2 separate regions of the Homo sapiens genome follow, and region 1 is linked to region 2. Evidence: fine-mapped expression QTL. A gene starts in region 2. The other region holds a variant in brackets. All regions are shown on one strand. Distances are from middle to middle. Region 1 has its middle 80 kb from the start of HGF. Region 2 holds the start of HGF (hepatocyte growth factor).

Region 1 (8,347 bases), 80 kb after region 2:
GTGAATATCCATTAGTGACCCAAGGGGATTACTCCCTGGCACCAAGTATACCTTTATGAGGGGTCTGGATGATGAGACTTTCCCCTCCCATCAGCAGAAAGTGAGGCGAGGCGAGGGGCTTGGATGTTGGTGAATACAAAAAGATAAATAAAATAAATAAACGTGTGGCAACACAGAATGCTTTTTAAAAAGAATTCAAAAGGAAAATTATAAATTTTGGCCATGGGGTACGTAAGTTGAATATTTATGTTGAGTAAATAGCTAACAAATTTATCAAAACATTCAAGGGCACTAAGGCTAAAGTAACATGACTTGATCTTCCTGTGTCTGTTTATGTGGATGGTAATTGACAGTAAGCAACACTGAACTTTCACTTCCTGTTCACTGCATCTAGGACAGACAATACTGGGAGGATGACTCAGTTGCTCCTGCAGCAACTGCCCTTTGAGGAAAAAGCTTCCTGATTTCACCATGTCTCTTTTAAAATACTTCTACTCTTCCTGCCCACCCCAACAGTTCTGCAGCTTCTCTTTTTGCAACAGTATCTCTAACCACTGTCCTCTAGATGTTATAGCAATCAGAAAGCCTCCCTTTCAGTTTTAAGAGTAAGGGGAAAATGTCTGTGAGTAGACGTACTCATTTTATAGAAGAGGTTCATGAATTTTCTTGCATAAGCCATGCCTGCGTTATTACATTTGCACAATCAGAGGGAAAGACTACTGCATGTTCAAGTAGTAGGTACAGTGAGAGGATCTGCAAAGAGATTAAAAGAGATCTGCTAGGGATTAAATTCTTATTAAATCCATGATATCAGCTAAGTGAGGAAGAAAGTTCATAGTAGAATCTTGGAAGTATCTGGCTACATTTTATATCCTTCACAATTCCTAGTACAAACTTTTGCTTCTCGTAACAATACATAATATGTAATATTTATGTAACAAATATAAGATGTAATAATATATAATTTAAAACTATTATATGTTTTGAATGAATATATGAATGAATGATTTAAGAATTATTTAATTAGAATTAGACATTTCCCAGGCCAACAGTAATGGTTTGTATGGTTCATGAACAGACGGGTATTCAGATTTCATCCATTAGAGAGCGTGTTTCACAATTCTAGCTCCACATTAGCATCACCTAGGGAGCTTTTAAAAAAATGTTGCCTGAGCCTCACCTTGAGAAATGCTGATTTAACTGTTCTGTGATGGGCCTAGCTTTGGGTGTTTATTAAAAGCTCCCCAAATAATTCTAATATGCGGCCAGCATTAAGCATCATTATGGTACCATCCCGTAGGTAGACTCTTAGAATGACTTGTGCACTGTGGGAAATGAAAATCTTTTGCTGATCTATTAGGGGGAGGAAAATATGAGAGAGAGAGAGAGAGAGAGAGAGAGAGAGAGAGAAGAAATACATATATTCCAATTATTCCACATTTTAACACATTTATTCAATAATTGGTAATATGTATTGAGTTCTTACTGAGTGTCACACACTCTAAGTATTGATGCTATAAATATTGAACATAAGCAGATATTGTGGAGCTTATAGTCTAATGAGAAGAAATAGACATGAATTAAATAAAACAGAAATGCCTATAAAATTGTAATTCTGACAAAGCCATCAAACAAAAATACATCATAGGGAAGGAGTTTTTCTATATTCCTTGAGAGGCATGGGTTTCCCAGTGAAGTGATATTTGAATTGAGAATCTAATTACTAGCAAAGATGAGAGAGTAAAGCGCTGTAAGACAGAGGACACTGCATGTGCAAGGGCCCTGAGCCTTCAGGGACTATTCGTTGTAAGAAAGTCAGTAAGGTTGTCACATAGAGATCAAGGGGAGGGTTAGTCTGATACATGCCTGAATACATGGATAAGAGACGTTTCATGCTTGTTGGCCATGTAATGTTAGTTGGTGGAACACATTAAGTCTCTTAATTATTATCCTAAAAGCAGAAGAAGTCAATAACAGATTTTAAGAAGAGGTGAGGTATTATCAAACTTGAATTTATAATAACAATCTATTGAAGAGATTGTATTGGGAGGAGACAAGAATGGACAAGGGAGGCTAATTTGCAAACTATCCAAGTAAGAGAAGATAGAAGCTTGGCTTATGGAGCTAGCAGATCAAATGGAGAGAGGTGGAAGAATTTTAAAGGGTGTTTTAAATATGCAATGTAATGGAGACGCAAAACTTAAAGAAGAGGACAACATTTAAGGAGAAGATGAGAAATATTTTTGTACATAGTAAGTTAGAGTTACTTTTTATTATCCAAATGGAAACATCAAGCAAGCTGTAGGTTTTATGGGTTTGGGGCTCAGTACAGAATTTTTAATTAGGAAATACAATTTTCGGAGTCATTTTCAAATAAAGCAGGTTAATGAATGCCATTGGATGAAGTTTTCTTTCAAGAAAGTACAGAGTTTGAAGAGAAGAGAACCTAGGTCCTGATCTTTAAAAAATATCCAGCATTTTGACCAGAAGGAAACCAGGAAAGCATGGTCTATCTTTACTTCATACTCTCCCCCTTTTATTTCCTCACATTTGTGCATTATGTTATAGAAGTTTCTATGCAGTTGGAATCAGTTGGAACCAAAACTTTGTCAATAATGTCTTTGCTCACAATCAACTGACTTCTCAAATTTTAGATTTGTATGAGTTTTTACAATAAAGATAAACTAAGAAAGACCAATCTGCTACTGAGAAAAATAGATTATTCAAAAGGGTGTGAGAGGTTTCAAATTGTGATGGTGTCCAAGATTATGTGAAAATTAATATGGATGAAGTCACTGGTGTTCTGGTAATTATGTAATAATTGGTTCTTCAAAATGTAATAAAAGGAAAATGGAATCTATTCAAGAGAACTGACTATAGTTAATGACAAAATACTATATATTTTGAAAATCACTGCAAGTGGATTTTAGGTATTCTCACCACAAAAAAAAATAAGTATGTGAGGTAACACTTATGTTAATGTATTAATCTGTTTCGTAAGGCTATCAAGAACTGCCCAAGACTGGGTAATTTATAAGGGAAAAAAGTTTAATTGACTCACAGTTCAGCATGGCTGGTGTGGCCTCAGGAAACCTACAATCATGGCAGAAGATGAAGGAGAAGCAAGGTACCTTCTTCACAAGGCAGCAGGAAGAAGAAGTGCCAACTTAAGGGGGAAGAGCCCCTTAAAAAACCATCAGATTTTGTGAGAACTCATTCACTATCACAAGAACAGCATGGGGGAACCACCTCCATGATCTAAATACTTCCACCTGGTCTCTCCCTTAACATGTGGAGATTGGGGATTATAATTCAAAATGAGATTTGGGTGGGGACACAAAGCCTATCCAAATCAATTAATTAGCTCAATGTAGTCATTTTACAAATATATGAATATCTCATCATTTTGCACACCACAAAAATATCTTATTTGTTAATTTAAAAATAAATAATTTTAAATGGTGTTTTTGATCCATAATTGTACATATTTATGGGGTAGAATGCGATGTTTTTATACATGCATACATTGTGTAAAAATCAAATCAGGATGTTTAGCATATCCATCACCTCATATATTTATCTATTTTTTGTGCTGAGAACTTTCAAAATCCTCTCTTCTAGCTCTTTTGAATTATGTAATGCAATGTACAGTATTA[T/C]ATAATCCTAGTCACATACTGTGCAATAGAACACCAGAACCTATTCCTTCTATCTAACTATAACTTTGTACCCATTGACTAATATCTCCCTATCTTGCCTGCACCCCTAACCTCCCCCAACTCTGGCAACAATTATTGTACTCTCTGCTTCTATGAGATCAACTTTTTTAGATTCCACATATGTGTAAATCATGCCATATTTGTCTTTTTGTGCCTGGTTTATTTCACTTAACATACTGTTCCTCAGGTTTATCCATGTTGCCACAAATGATAGAATTTCATTCTTTGTTATGGATGAATAGTATTCCATTGTGTATGTGTACCACATTTTCTTTTTCCATTCATCCAATGATGGACACACACTGATTCCATAACTTGCCTGTTGTGAATTGTGTTGCAATAAACATGGGAGTGTAGATGTCTCTTTGAAATATTGACTTCATTTCTTTAAAATATAAATAAATTTTAAAAAGAAACCAATGAATCAACATCAGATTTACAGTCATTCATCAGATAAAAAAGTTCATAATATAAAATAAAAATACATAATGCAAAATTCGTATGGTAAAAGCAAATACTATGAAGTTGCTTAAAAATGAAATGGATCTATCTGTGTGTATAGATGTATATTGTAAAAAAAAAAATAGTTACAGAATACTACATAGAGCTGTTTCTCAACATTGGCTCTCTTGACATTTAGGGCAGGATACGTCTTTGCTGTGGGGGTTGTCCTGTGCATTGCAGGGTGATTAGAATCATCCCTAACCTCTACCCACTAAATGCCAGTAAAACTATCCACCATCTCCATTTTTGGTTACAACTAAAAATGTCTCTATATATCACCAAATGTTCCCTGGGGACAAAATCACCTTTGGTTCAGAAACAGAAATAAAACATGATTTCGTTGATGTGCAAATAAAATATCTATTTATTTGTTTTGTACATATGTAAGTTTATTATTAACTGGGAGTCATCAGTACAGTTTAAAGTGCATACATGAGACAATATACCTGAGGAAGGGAATGTAATTATAGATAATGGGGGATATTGAAGAATAAAATTATTCTGGGGGAAAAAGAGAAATAAAAACTGATTTTTAATGATTTTCCATTTTCGTGGGGCTAAATACTCCCACCATGACCAATATCAGCTTCAGTGATGTCACTGAACCCAGTGTTTAGAATAGATTTGCAGACCTGGTTTTCAAAAGACATTTCAAGTCAGCTTTAGCCCACAACTGGATCTAATATATAAGATGATAAAATTAAACCTTGGGAGACCACCCAACTTCCATAAGCTCATAGTTCTAGCAAAGGAAACATCTGGAAAAGGATCTAGATCTTTCACGAGTCCTGTGCTCTATCTAATCACCATGCTAATAAAAGTAATATAGAACAGTGGTTCTCAAAGTCCTGAGACCAGCAGTCTCAGCAGCATTTGCGAAATTCTTAGAAATGCAAAGTCACAGGCTCCTCCTCAGAATTCCTGAATTTAAAAAATCTGGGGATATTCCCCAGCAGTGTATCTTTTAGCAAGCCCTCCAGGTGATTCTGATGAATACTAAAGTTAAAGAACCACAGGCACAGACAATAGTGATATCTTAAGTCACTTGATGCTTTGATGCTTTTTAAAGAATTATCATCCTGTCAGCTGTGCTTCCCATAAATGCTAATCCTAGTAACACAATAATACTGGTCTTTAGGAAGAGCAATCTGGCAGCTTTGTTAGATTTAACAAAGATAAATTGAAAATTTAGAAATGAGTTGTGGTTCTAATTTATTATGCTGACTGTGAAAAAAGAAAGAAATGGTCCCAATGTAGAACCTGTAGCAATGACATTTTAAATGAAGGATAACATACAGAAAGAAACTTAAAGTGCCTTCAAGGTTTAGTGCTTCAAAAAATTTAATTAAAAAAATCCTGTCCACAAATCTATCCTGCTTTGTCCTCAACTTGTTGCTATGGTTTCCCATCTTTTTCACACACTCAGAACTTTAGAAGTATATCACATATCGCACATATTCTCCCTACTAGTATTTTTTTCAGGCTCCCCATTAGAGGATACAGAGCTTTACTCATCCTTATATCCTCTGCAAAAACTGGCAGAATGTCTTTCACATAGTCAATAACTATAATAACTGAAATAAGAAATTCTTACGTAGGAATCATTTCAGAAAGGTGATTAAGTTAATATTTACTTTGATGTTTCAGAACAATGGGAGGCACCCAATGAAAATATTAAAAAAACAGATGGAGTTAACATACCTGGAATACTCACAGCCACATACAAACCTTCAAACAAGTTTCTGTCACAGCTTAGTTCAATCTGATACATTCTTAAATGAGCTTCCTTTGTTTCGGCCAACACATGTTCCATGTATGCCAGCCACTAATTTTAGTGCATCCCCCGCTTTGTTTGTAGTTCCTATAGTTTTGTTGTCCTAAAACTGATAAGCTTTTTATTTTGTATTCATTTAGAAGTCAACCTCAAATATGGAACCATTTTCATATTTAATACGTAGAATTATATATTGAAATGTATTTTTGAAATTTATTCTCTACTATTTCTCGCTCTTTAAAATATTTTAGCTAGATAGAAAAAATACATTTATCTTCACATTTATGTGTTACAGTGTGCATAGACTATTTTGCAGAGAATGAAATGGAAGTTTCTACTAAATTTAGTAAGTGAATATGCGTTCCTACATTCGTAGGTAAAACTATGTACATTTACTCTCAAAAAAAAGAAATAAAATAATTTTCTATATTCAGATACATATGAAATTACAGAAAAGGTGGTATATTTATTTGGGTAGTATTCCACTCTGTAAATTCTTCTACCCTAAAATATACTAAATTATACAGAGGTGGTAAGAAGGAGTGCAGATAATAGAATGAGATGCTTGTAATTGACTTAGTTTTGCCATTAGATCCATGACTTCAGAAATTTGTTTCATGTAGGTCTCAATCTAAAAAATACAGAGATAATAATAATGCCTACTATGAAGTGTTTTTCAAAAGACTAAAATATTGACCCAAGTACAGCAATTAGCACAGGACCTGAGTCAGAGTGCCTGTCTCAACATGTATTAGTTTATTATTAACTGCTATTATTATTGTTAATGCAACTTTTCTTCAGCAGCTATAGCAGCCCCTTCATCTAAACTTAGGTAAGAACATTCTAAGAAGTAAAAATGTAATTATTTGAAAATTAATCATATGAAGAAATTACTGCACTCATTTTAGTTGTCATAATCATATTATAGTTATGTTTTTGCTTAAAGAGTACTTGTCTTTTAGAGAGAGATCAAAGTATGTACAGATGAAATACTTTAATGTCTTGGATTTCCACAAATATACTCTGGATGGGAAGCAATAGATGAACAAAATTAGACAAACTGTTGAAATTAGAGTATATATACGTGTTTTATATTACTATTCACTCCACTTTTACATATATTTGAAAAAATGCTATATTAGTTCATTTCACACTGCTATAAAGATACTACCCAAGACTGGGTAATTTGTAAAAGAAAGGAGGTTGAATTGACTCACACCTGCAGATGGCTGCAGAAGCCTCAGGAAACTAGAGTCATGGTGGAAGGTGAAGGAGAAGCAAGGCACCTCTTACATCATGGTGGCAGGAAAGAGACAGGGAGAGAGAGAAAGATAAAGAGAGAGGAGAGTGCACACGAAGGGAGAAGAACCCCACACTTATCAAACAACCAGATCTCCTGAGAACTCTATACAAGAACAGCAAGGGAGAAGACCACTCCCATGATCCAATCATCTCCCACCAGGTCCCTCCCTTGACACATGGGGATTACAATTCAAGATGAGATTTGGGTGGGGAGACAGAGCCAAACTATATCAAATTCATAATTAAAATAACTAATAAGTGTAAACAAATAAAATACATTTTTTCTCTGCATTAATTATTTTTGCTAGTCTTTGAAAATCTGATTCTCAGCTGCCTAACCTGTATGCCCATGGCTTCAATGACTGCCAAAATACACAAAGTTCACAGGAAGGAAAATAAATGGTTGCTTCTGTAGCTACCACCTAGTAGCAAATAGGTGATTACCCCCCACCCACCCACCCACACACAATTAAAGGGGATTTTTATGGAAATCGAGTATGTTTTATATGAATGAAGTACATTTTTTGTAAATATGAGTGACAACAATACTTTTTTGTAGCTAAAAGATATGATGGCCTAGCAGATTTAGGACACTCTGTATAGCTGGGTGAAGCATATTGATACATTGGTAAGATGGCAAGGAATAAGGCAATTTCAGTATAAAGTTATATCAGAGTAACAAAAATATGCTAGCGGTGACCATATGAAGAATTTACCATGACTATTATAAAAGCAAATACAATTCCAAACTTTTGCAAATCTACCCTTGTGGAAAAGCTTTCTTAGTAACAGATGGGATTTTGGGAAATCAAAGGGGAAACATATGAATAACATTGAACTTTATTTAACCTAACCAAATCTCACATAATTGATATAAGGAAGTTTAAAAATCACCCCAGAATAAATAAATGCATGTCATAAATAAATGTACCATATATATGATCTTGAAATACATTTATGAGATACATTTACATATAAATATATCCCATTTTAGCCTAATTTTTTCAATTTTCCTTATTATGTTTCCATTATTTTATCAGAATAAGATTAT
Region 2 (8,347 bases):
CAAGTGGCAAGATGTTAAGATGAAAGTACACAAATAATTAATGGAAGGGAATGGTTGAGACTGGAGATTGTAAACTCTCCAAAGCCAAGAATTTCAAATAGAAGTCTAAATTTTCGTTGTTATTATCTAAGACATGGATTTTTGCAAATCGGCAGTCATCTCCCTTTCTTTAGAGAAGGCAACAATATCACAAATAAAGATACCAAGAAGACAGAGACTGTGTCAGATGTAAATCAAATGCTGATATTTGAGAAGCTGCAGCATCATCTCTTCCAAGGGGATTTACAAAATGAAGTGATGTTCAGTGTGATTTGAGGGGCCTCCCTAGGTATTTTCTTCCTTCTCCTTTCCAGTTCTTATTTAAGGTTTCATTCTTCTAGAAGCCTCATCCTGGCCTCCACCTTCACTGTCTGTTTCTGCCTACAACTTTCCTTCCACACAGGAACTGAAGCAACCACACTGAAGAACAACTTCAATCAAGTACATTTTCAACAAAAAAACTTTCAGCTGCTCGCATGACATTCATTTTAAAGACCACATGGTTGAGCATGACCTTCAATCCTATCCATTCTACCTCATCTTACTTTTCCACTCACAGACAATATTCCCCATCACATGCCCAATACTTCTGCCTCAAATGCTTGCCTTCAGTTGCTGTGTGGGGTCCTTCCTGGGACATTCCTTATACTTACGAACCTCTGTACCTTGGGCCACTTGTGATCCTGTGCTAAGATACTGACTATTCTACCATCCATCTTTTCATATGGACTTCAGTACCATATAACCCCTTCACCTGGTTTGATTCTCTATGCTGAAAATGAACTCTCAACCATAGTACAAAGTATTTCTAACAGGGTTTTTTGAAAATATATCACTTGGCCAAATGATTTTTTTTAAGTAAATTTCAGTTGATTTCACTGCTGCTCGCTTCAATATAAATGAAAAAAGAAAAAAAAAAAACACCACATAGTTCATTCACATACATTTGGGTAGAAATCTCAGCTCTGTCCCTTAACTCACAAAGAAATAAGATAACTGAGGTCTTTGAACCGGCTAAATGAGTCCAATAGTGCCAATCTTATTAGAATTAAGTGAGATGTACTTTACTACTTGGTTCATATCAGTTGCTCAACAAATTTAAGTTCCTTTCTTATTTGTTCATCTTTACATCCCCCACATACTCTTGAATATTAGGTGCTCATTTAATGCTTCTTTTATTACAGAGGATTGGATATTTGTTTCCCATGTAGGTGGGAGTGAATAGAGGGTAATTCTATATAGGCTAACTCCTACAAAGATGGCGGGGGCCCATTATATTGAATATTTCTTAAGCTTTTAAAAAAGTATCTCCATAGTGTATTCTGTTGATAACTGGTTGTCAACTTACAGTATATACTTCTTTCCTAACAATGTGTTATTTTACAATACATACAAATATAAATTCATAGAATAAATAATTATAATCAAAGCTAGTAACAACAAAAGAAACCTCTAAATAGTCAATATTAAATGTCATTTAAAAAAGAACAAACTTTGTGTGTTCTAAGAGGCTACCCATATTTTTTATTTTAAAGGTTATTAAAAAAAACTATCAAACTGGCCATCTAAACAAAGGCGCACCCTCCTTTGATGACAATTTTAGAATTATCCACTTCAGGAATTATTCACAGCATATTTGTAATTCCCAACTGGACTCTCCTTGCCTGCCAGCACTCTTGGGCTGCATTCTGCCTGTACTCAGGAAACACAGTCATTTCTACATTAGGCAAAGTGAAATATAATTACAAATGTATGTCTCCTGCCAAAAGTTCATAATGCATGCCGAAAACAAATAGACACTGCCTACGGTTGATCTACTGTTTGGGTTTTCCACACTGCGTTCCCCTTGCGTTAGCACAGATGAATTCAGGTAACCAGATTCTACTTAAGAACAGTGACATTTTAATCTTTAAAAATGAAAACCCTCAAAATATTAGCCATTATTTCAATTTAAGCTCAAAATCCCCTAAACCAGCAGTCATCTGTGAAGCATTTTTTTCTTCTTCTTCTTGAGATGGAGTCTTGCTCCGTTCCCCAGGCTGAAGTGCGGTGACACAATCTCGGCTCACTGCAACCCCCACCTCCCAGGTTCAAGAGAGTCTCCTGCCTCAGCCTCCCAAGTAGGTGGGACTACAGGTGCCTGCCACCACGCCTGGCTAATTTTTTGTATTTTTAGTAGAGACAGGGTTTCACCTTGTTAGCTAGGATGGTCTCAATCTCCTGACCTCGTGATCTGCCCGCCTCGGCCTCCCAAAGTGCTGGGATTACAGGCGTGAGCCACCGCACCCGACCCTGTGAAGCGATTTTAACATGACACATGTCAAGCATGATAACCTGCTTGATTTGAACTCACTGCTTTTTCACTTCTTCAGAAATCTTACCTAAATGCTTTCAGAGTGACCCTTTCCAAACAGTGTCATTTTCCAAACGGGCCACTTCACAAAATAAAAGAAAACCAGGTGGGTTGAATGATTTTCCTTTGCATTTAGAAAATTCTTGAGTTTTTTAACCCTTGTACCATATCAAAAACTAGATCAAAGGTCTGATAAATGTCATATTTACCATCTCAAAAGATACAGCCAGTTCTCTTTTTTATATTGTAAAAAGGCCATGTCTCCATCTGGGCATTTGTTCCCACTCTTTTATTCCCCTGCGCCTACCCTTGATATTCACTGCCTTCTCCCGTTGGCACCTCAGCCTCTACAATGATACAACAAAATACAGATGTTTCCTCTTGCCCTGATAACAAGAGAAACTTCCCAGAGCAGCAAACGAGATCTCTAAATCTCCAAGCAATATGAACTTTCAAGCAACTCCTCCCCAAACGGCAAATCCAAGGGAGAAAGTGGGAGACAGAGATGGGCAGTTCTGCAGCTTTAATCAAAGTCTCCGTGCACTGCAGTTTCAAAGGGCAGGCATCCGTACCCAGAAAGAATAAGATCTTTAAAAAGAGGCTTTCTCTTTCATTTTTATGATATGCAAATACTCAGAGTTTATTCTGCCTCCTCAAAATGAAAACCTGTACAAAGTCGTAATTTGGCTCCAAATGTTGACTAGGTGATGTGGAGTAGTGCATTATCATGAAAAATTGTTCTCTGGAAAAGGATGACTTCCTGCCGGACTGACCATCACTCTTGCCTCTTCAGACCAGACCCTCTCTTTAGCTTTAAACTTGTCCAAAGCAGCCAAGTTCAGCCAGTATTAGCACTTCCTCCCTATCTCATAATCCACAACTATTAGGCTAAGTGGGACGGGGCTTGGGTTGGAGGTGGAGGGGAGTTGAGGGAAAGTTAATTATCATTTTAAATGCTATTCAAACAACAACAAAAAAGAATGTCAAAAAAAGCATAATGAGAGCTTTTAGAAACCTATACTACATACTGAGTTCAGAAAGGATGCTGGGAATAGGGTAAAAAGAGGGTGTTAAAAGGAATAGGGAAGGTTAGCAGGAGAGTTAAATACTAATACTAATAATGAAGAAGAAGAAGGGAACTAACCTGCATAGGGGATGGCGATGGGGAGCAGGAGGAGATGCAGGAGGACATGCTGCAGCAGCAGGGCTGGCAGGAGTTTGGTCACCCACATGGTGCTGCTGGACGGGCTGGCGGATCCCTCTGGAGGAGATGCCTGGGTGAAAGAATCCTGTTCGGAGTCAGTGCCTAAAAGAGCCAGTCGGCTCTGAGCTGCTTTTTATTGCGATGAGCTAAGTTTGTTGTGTGATTAACTGGAAAGATCTAGGTCTGAACTCCCTCTTACGGTAAGAAACTGTTTAACAACAGCCCTTTACTCTCTTCCAGCCCCCTCCTTTCCTCACTCGCCCCCCCTTCAACAGCACCAAACAGATCCCTGCAACCCCCCCCATTCCCCGCCTCCCCCCAACCCCACGCTTAGGAAAGAAACTTACAAAGAAAAGGTCACCTGGCCTGAGGCCAGCTTCAATTTGGAAGCTGGAGCTCCAGATCCCAGTGGCTCCTATCCGAGTAAGGAAGGGAGGAGCAAGGCTGAGCCCAATGGCTAAATCAAGGCACAGGCAGGGGACCAATTCGCTCAATTTAAACAGGAAAATACATGTGTTTATATATCTATTTGGGAAAAGAGGAAGGGGAAGCAGCATAAGAAGAAAGCGAAGAGCTGTCTTTCAGCCAAATGTGCCCCAGCTCCTAATCTGTCTAGTTTTCCTGCTAGAGCAACTGAGGGATTCAAAACACTGACACAGGTTCTCTAGGGGTTTAGAGACCTGGGAGAGGTGGGAGCGGGGCCAGGGAGGAGAGCCCAGGCACGTCCAGCCCAGGTAGAAAGAGGTTAGTTAAGAAAAGGGTGTGGTATTGTGGGGCCAAAATAAGCAAGCAAAACAAAAGCACGCAGATTGTCAGATGAAAAAATTGCCCCTGCCCCATGGGCTCAGAGCAGGCAGCTTTTTTTTTTTTTTTTTTTTTTTTTTTTTTTCACAAACTGCCAAACTCACGAAATACCACACATTTACCCAAAGTATACAAAATAAACTTGTCTGATCTGACTTTTTAAGAGAAAGTCCAAGAAACAGTCATTGTCCATAGCCTGTCCCTGACAGGTAAATATGCCATGTGGACTTGTACAGGCACACACGTGCACACAACACATTCACACATGTTGGTGTGTATGTACGTATACACTGGTTAGGACTGACTTTCACCGGAAATCCCTCAAGCTGTTTGAATTCGTGAGTACTGAATATGCCTCTCTTTTCCAGCTTCATCTGCCTGTACACGACAGCCAGCTTCCCAAAGTGTAAGTGGAAAGATGAGGAGCTTGTATGGGCATGGGGGGACTCCTAGGTATCAAATCCTTGTGAGATCATTGCCCAGACCCCTCACTTGATTCAGAGAATTTGTCTTTGCACCCAGAGGTGGATGCTCTGGTAACTTTAAGCAAGAGCCTGCTTTATTTCTAATGGATGCTGAGGGATACTTGCCCCTGTATCTCTCTGAGATGGATATTAGTAGAGAACAGTGCCCCTGTCCACAGAGGAAAAGAAAGCAGGCCAAATGTGGGAATGACTAGAGCGGTGGGTAGCTGTACAGAAGTGATTGTGGGGCTGAATTAAACTCATCCACAGAACAGCCTTCCCTCCACATACCACCTTCATTTGTCCTCCAGCTCCCTTACCCCCACTTTCAGGGAAAAACAACCTGCCTGATAAGTCCCTGAGGTTGTGGGATATCTAGAGAAGCTAGGGATTAAGAGAATTCCTTTTGAGGGATCTATTTTATATGACCCGTTTCTATTGCTAATCCTTCTCTTTTATCATTTTCTCCTTACTTAAAAATCATTTGTCAGCCTCTGTCTGGTGTCCCCAGGATCCATTTTACTTTCTTTTTACTGTTCAGTAGACTTTTTGGGAAATCTCAGTTCAATGCATAGCCTGACCGTGACCCTGAATTGCTCCACTGCATCTCTTGTGCTTTATTAGGGTGTAGGGGCTCAGAAAAATGATACCCCAAATGAAGACCTCAGAATCAGCTCTCTCTGACCTTCTCCTGCTCTCCAGTCTCCGGCCCTTCATTCTCCCCCAAGGCGAGGCATAGAAACTAGAATCCCTCTTTCCCAAGGTGGCTCCTAGAAACCAGAACCCTTTTTCCCAAACCAGCCATAAAACCTAAGCATATCACTCTAACACCTCAACTTTCTGTGTGAAATCTGGCCATAAAGACATTATCTGACCTACCTTGTTTGATCGTAGCTCATAAGACCCCATTCCAAAGAAGGTCCTGCCCCATACCCAGAAGGAATGAGTACTGCACAGAGATACCAGGAAGAATCTCACCTTGCCAGGCGTCCCCACTCAGTCTGTTAGCATGAGATCATATTCCTTTTGTCCAGTTGTATTTCTCCACACCTGCCCACACTTTGTTGAACCTAAGCATAAAAATGGACAATTTCTTTTGTAACTTTGGGTCTTTGTTCTAAAGGCTCTCGGGTTGTGTAAAATTATGATCAAATAAATGTGTATGCCTTTTCTTCTATTGATCTGCCTCTTGACAGTAATTTTTTTTTTAGCAAACCTTCAGAGAACAATGGAAAAGTTTTCCCTTGGCCCAACAAGGGATTAAGGCTGTTTTTAAAAGAAGTTAGATTTTTCTGTAAGTAAATTCCTGTAGGTAAGGAAAGAAAAAGAACAGTGTTTCTATTTATTTTTTTCTCTCAGAAAAAAAAACTAGAGTCAGGGTTGTAAATTATTGTTATAAGTTTGGAGCAAAATCCATCTGAGATAAGGGGTTCAGGACATTAGAAAACTGAATAAACTTATTAGGTCACACATTTTCGTGACTTTTTTTACTGTCACATTAAATATGGTAAATACAACTTAAAACCTATATAATTTATATATTCATATTTCTTGACAAAAATTATTTGGTCTTTCTTTACTGAAATTGTTGCTAATATACACTGAGATCTTAATGTATGCTAAGCATCATATTACATACTATTGAAAATTATTTCATCCTTACAGTAAGTTTAAGATTATTAAAATTCTCATTTTATAGTTGAGGAAACATAGTAAGTTATTTTTATTCTTAAATAACTTGCCTAAGATCCCAAAGTAATATTCAAGTGTGAGATTCAGATTAGTCATACCCCATAGGATGGTATAAATTTTTTTAACCCCACGAGGAGAAGAATCACATGTTCCAGAGTATAATCACCAAAATAAGTCTGAGACTGGGTATATAGGAGATCCTCCATAATAATTTATAAAATAATACATAATTTTAAATCTCTCAAAACTATAAAGAAATACTCAAATGAAATTCTAATTATGCTATTAGTTTAGTCATTTTGATAACATATTCTCTTTGTTTTTTCTAAATCATGCAATGTTTTTTTCCCATCATCTACTGATTGCCTTACATAGGCATACATCATTTTATTGCCCTTCACTTTATTGTACTTCACAGATAATGTGTTTTTACAAATTAAGTTTTGTGGTGTCCTCGAATTGAGCAAGTCTGTTGGTGCCGTTTTTCCCACAGCATGTGCTCACTTTGTGTCTCCGTGTCACATTTTGGTAATTCTTGCAATATTTCAAATATTTCCTTATTATTTTACATGATGATCTGTGATCAGTGATCTTTGATGTTACTGCCATAATTGTTTTGGGCACCACAAACCACAACCCAAACTTAATCCATTCATGTGTGTATTCTGACTACTCCACTGACGAGCTGTTCACCCGTCTCTCTCCCTCCCCTCAGGCTTCTCTATTTCCTAAAACACAACATTATTGAAATTAGGCCAATTGATAGCCCTGCAATGACCTCTAAGTACTCAAGTGAAAGGAAGAGTTGCGCGTCTCTTCCTTGAAATCAAAAGCTAGAAATAAATTAAGCTTTTGGGGAAAGGCATGCCCAAAGATGAGTTAGGTCAAAAGCCAGTCCTCTTGCACCAGTTATCCGAGTTGCAAATGCAAAAGAAAAGTTCTTGAAGCAAGTTAGAAGTGCTACTCCAGTGAACACACAAATGATAAGAGAGCAGAGCAGCCTTATTGCTGATATGCAGAAAATTTGAGCAGTCTAGATAGAAGATCAAACCAGCTGCAATATTCCCTTAAGCCTTAAGCCAAAGCCACAGCAAGGCTCTGAACATCAAGCAAGACCCTCCATCAGCAAAAAGATTATCACTCGCTGAAGGCTTATATGATCGTTAGCATTTTTTAACAATAAAGTATTTTTAAGTTAAGGTATGGACATTTTTAAACATAATGCTGTTGCACACTTAATAGTCTGCTGTGTAACTTTTATATGCACTGGGAAACGAAAAAAAAATTCATGTAACTTGCTTTATTGCGATTTTTGCTTGATCACAGTGGTCTGAAACCAAACGAGCAGTATCTCCAAGGTAAGCCAGTACTTCTTAAGTGTTAAACAGTTTGAATAAATCCCCAAAAAATTGTGTCTGAAAAGTTTTTGATAAAATAACTTGTAAAGAGATTACTTTAAGTACTGCAATTTATGTAAATACTTAAATACTAGATGGATACTCATTACCCTATAATACCATTTTAAATCTGTCCTATGATTGAGGGTTCTAGTATCTCATGGATACTAGATGGATTTAATGGAAAAGCCTCTATTACTGTGCTCTTTAAAAGGCTGCTGCTTTAACACGGTATCTTTCTTTGTCTTAAGCCCAGGTTTCTCCACAAGTGATGCTTGTAAGAACGTACGTGAGGAATAAGCTGACATGACCTTATGATCTGTAGATTACTAATGAGTTTTGTGTTATTGAACTGGTCATTTTGTTTACTAAACGCCTGTGATTACTAATGCGT

The links.
Region 1: its variant is fine-mapped to the expression of HGF in whole blood (TOPMed, PIP above 0.99).

Annotation. Positions count from the first base shown.
Region 1 is chr7:81,846,174-81,854,520 of GRCh38, forward strand. No RefSeq gene overlaps it. Among named protein-coding and RNA genes, the nearest start is that of HGF, 80 kb to the left of the region's middle. The variant T/C (reference allele first, on the strand shown) is at 3,657.
Region 2 is chr7:81,766,348-81,774,694 of GRCh38, forward strand. It overlaps HGF (hepatocyte growth factor), which reads right to left and starts at 3,700. Exons shown (of 18, transcript NM_000601.6): 1 at 3,537-3,700. The coding sequence starts at 3,624.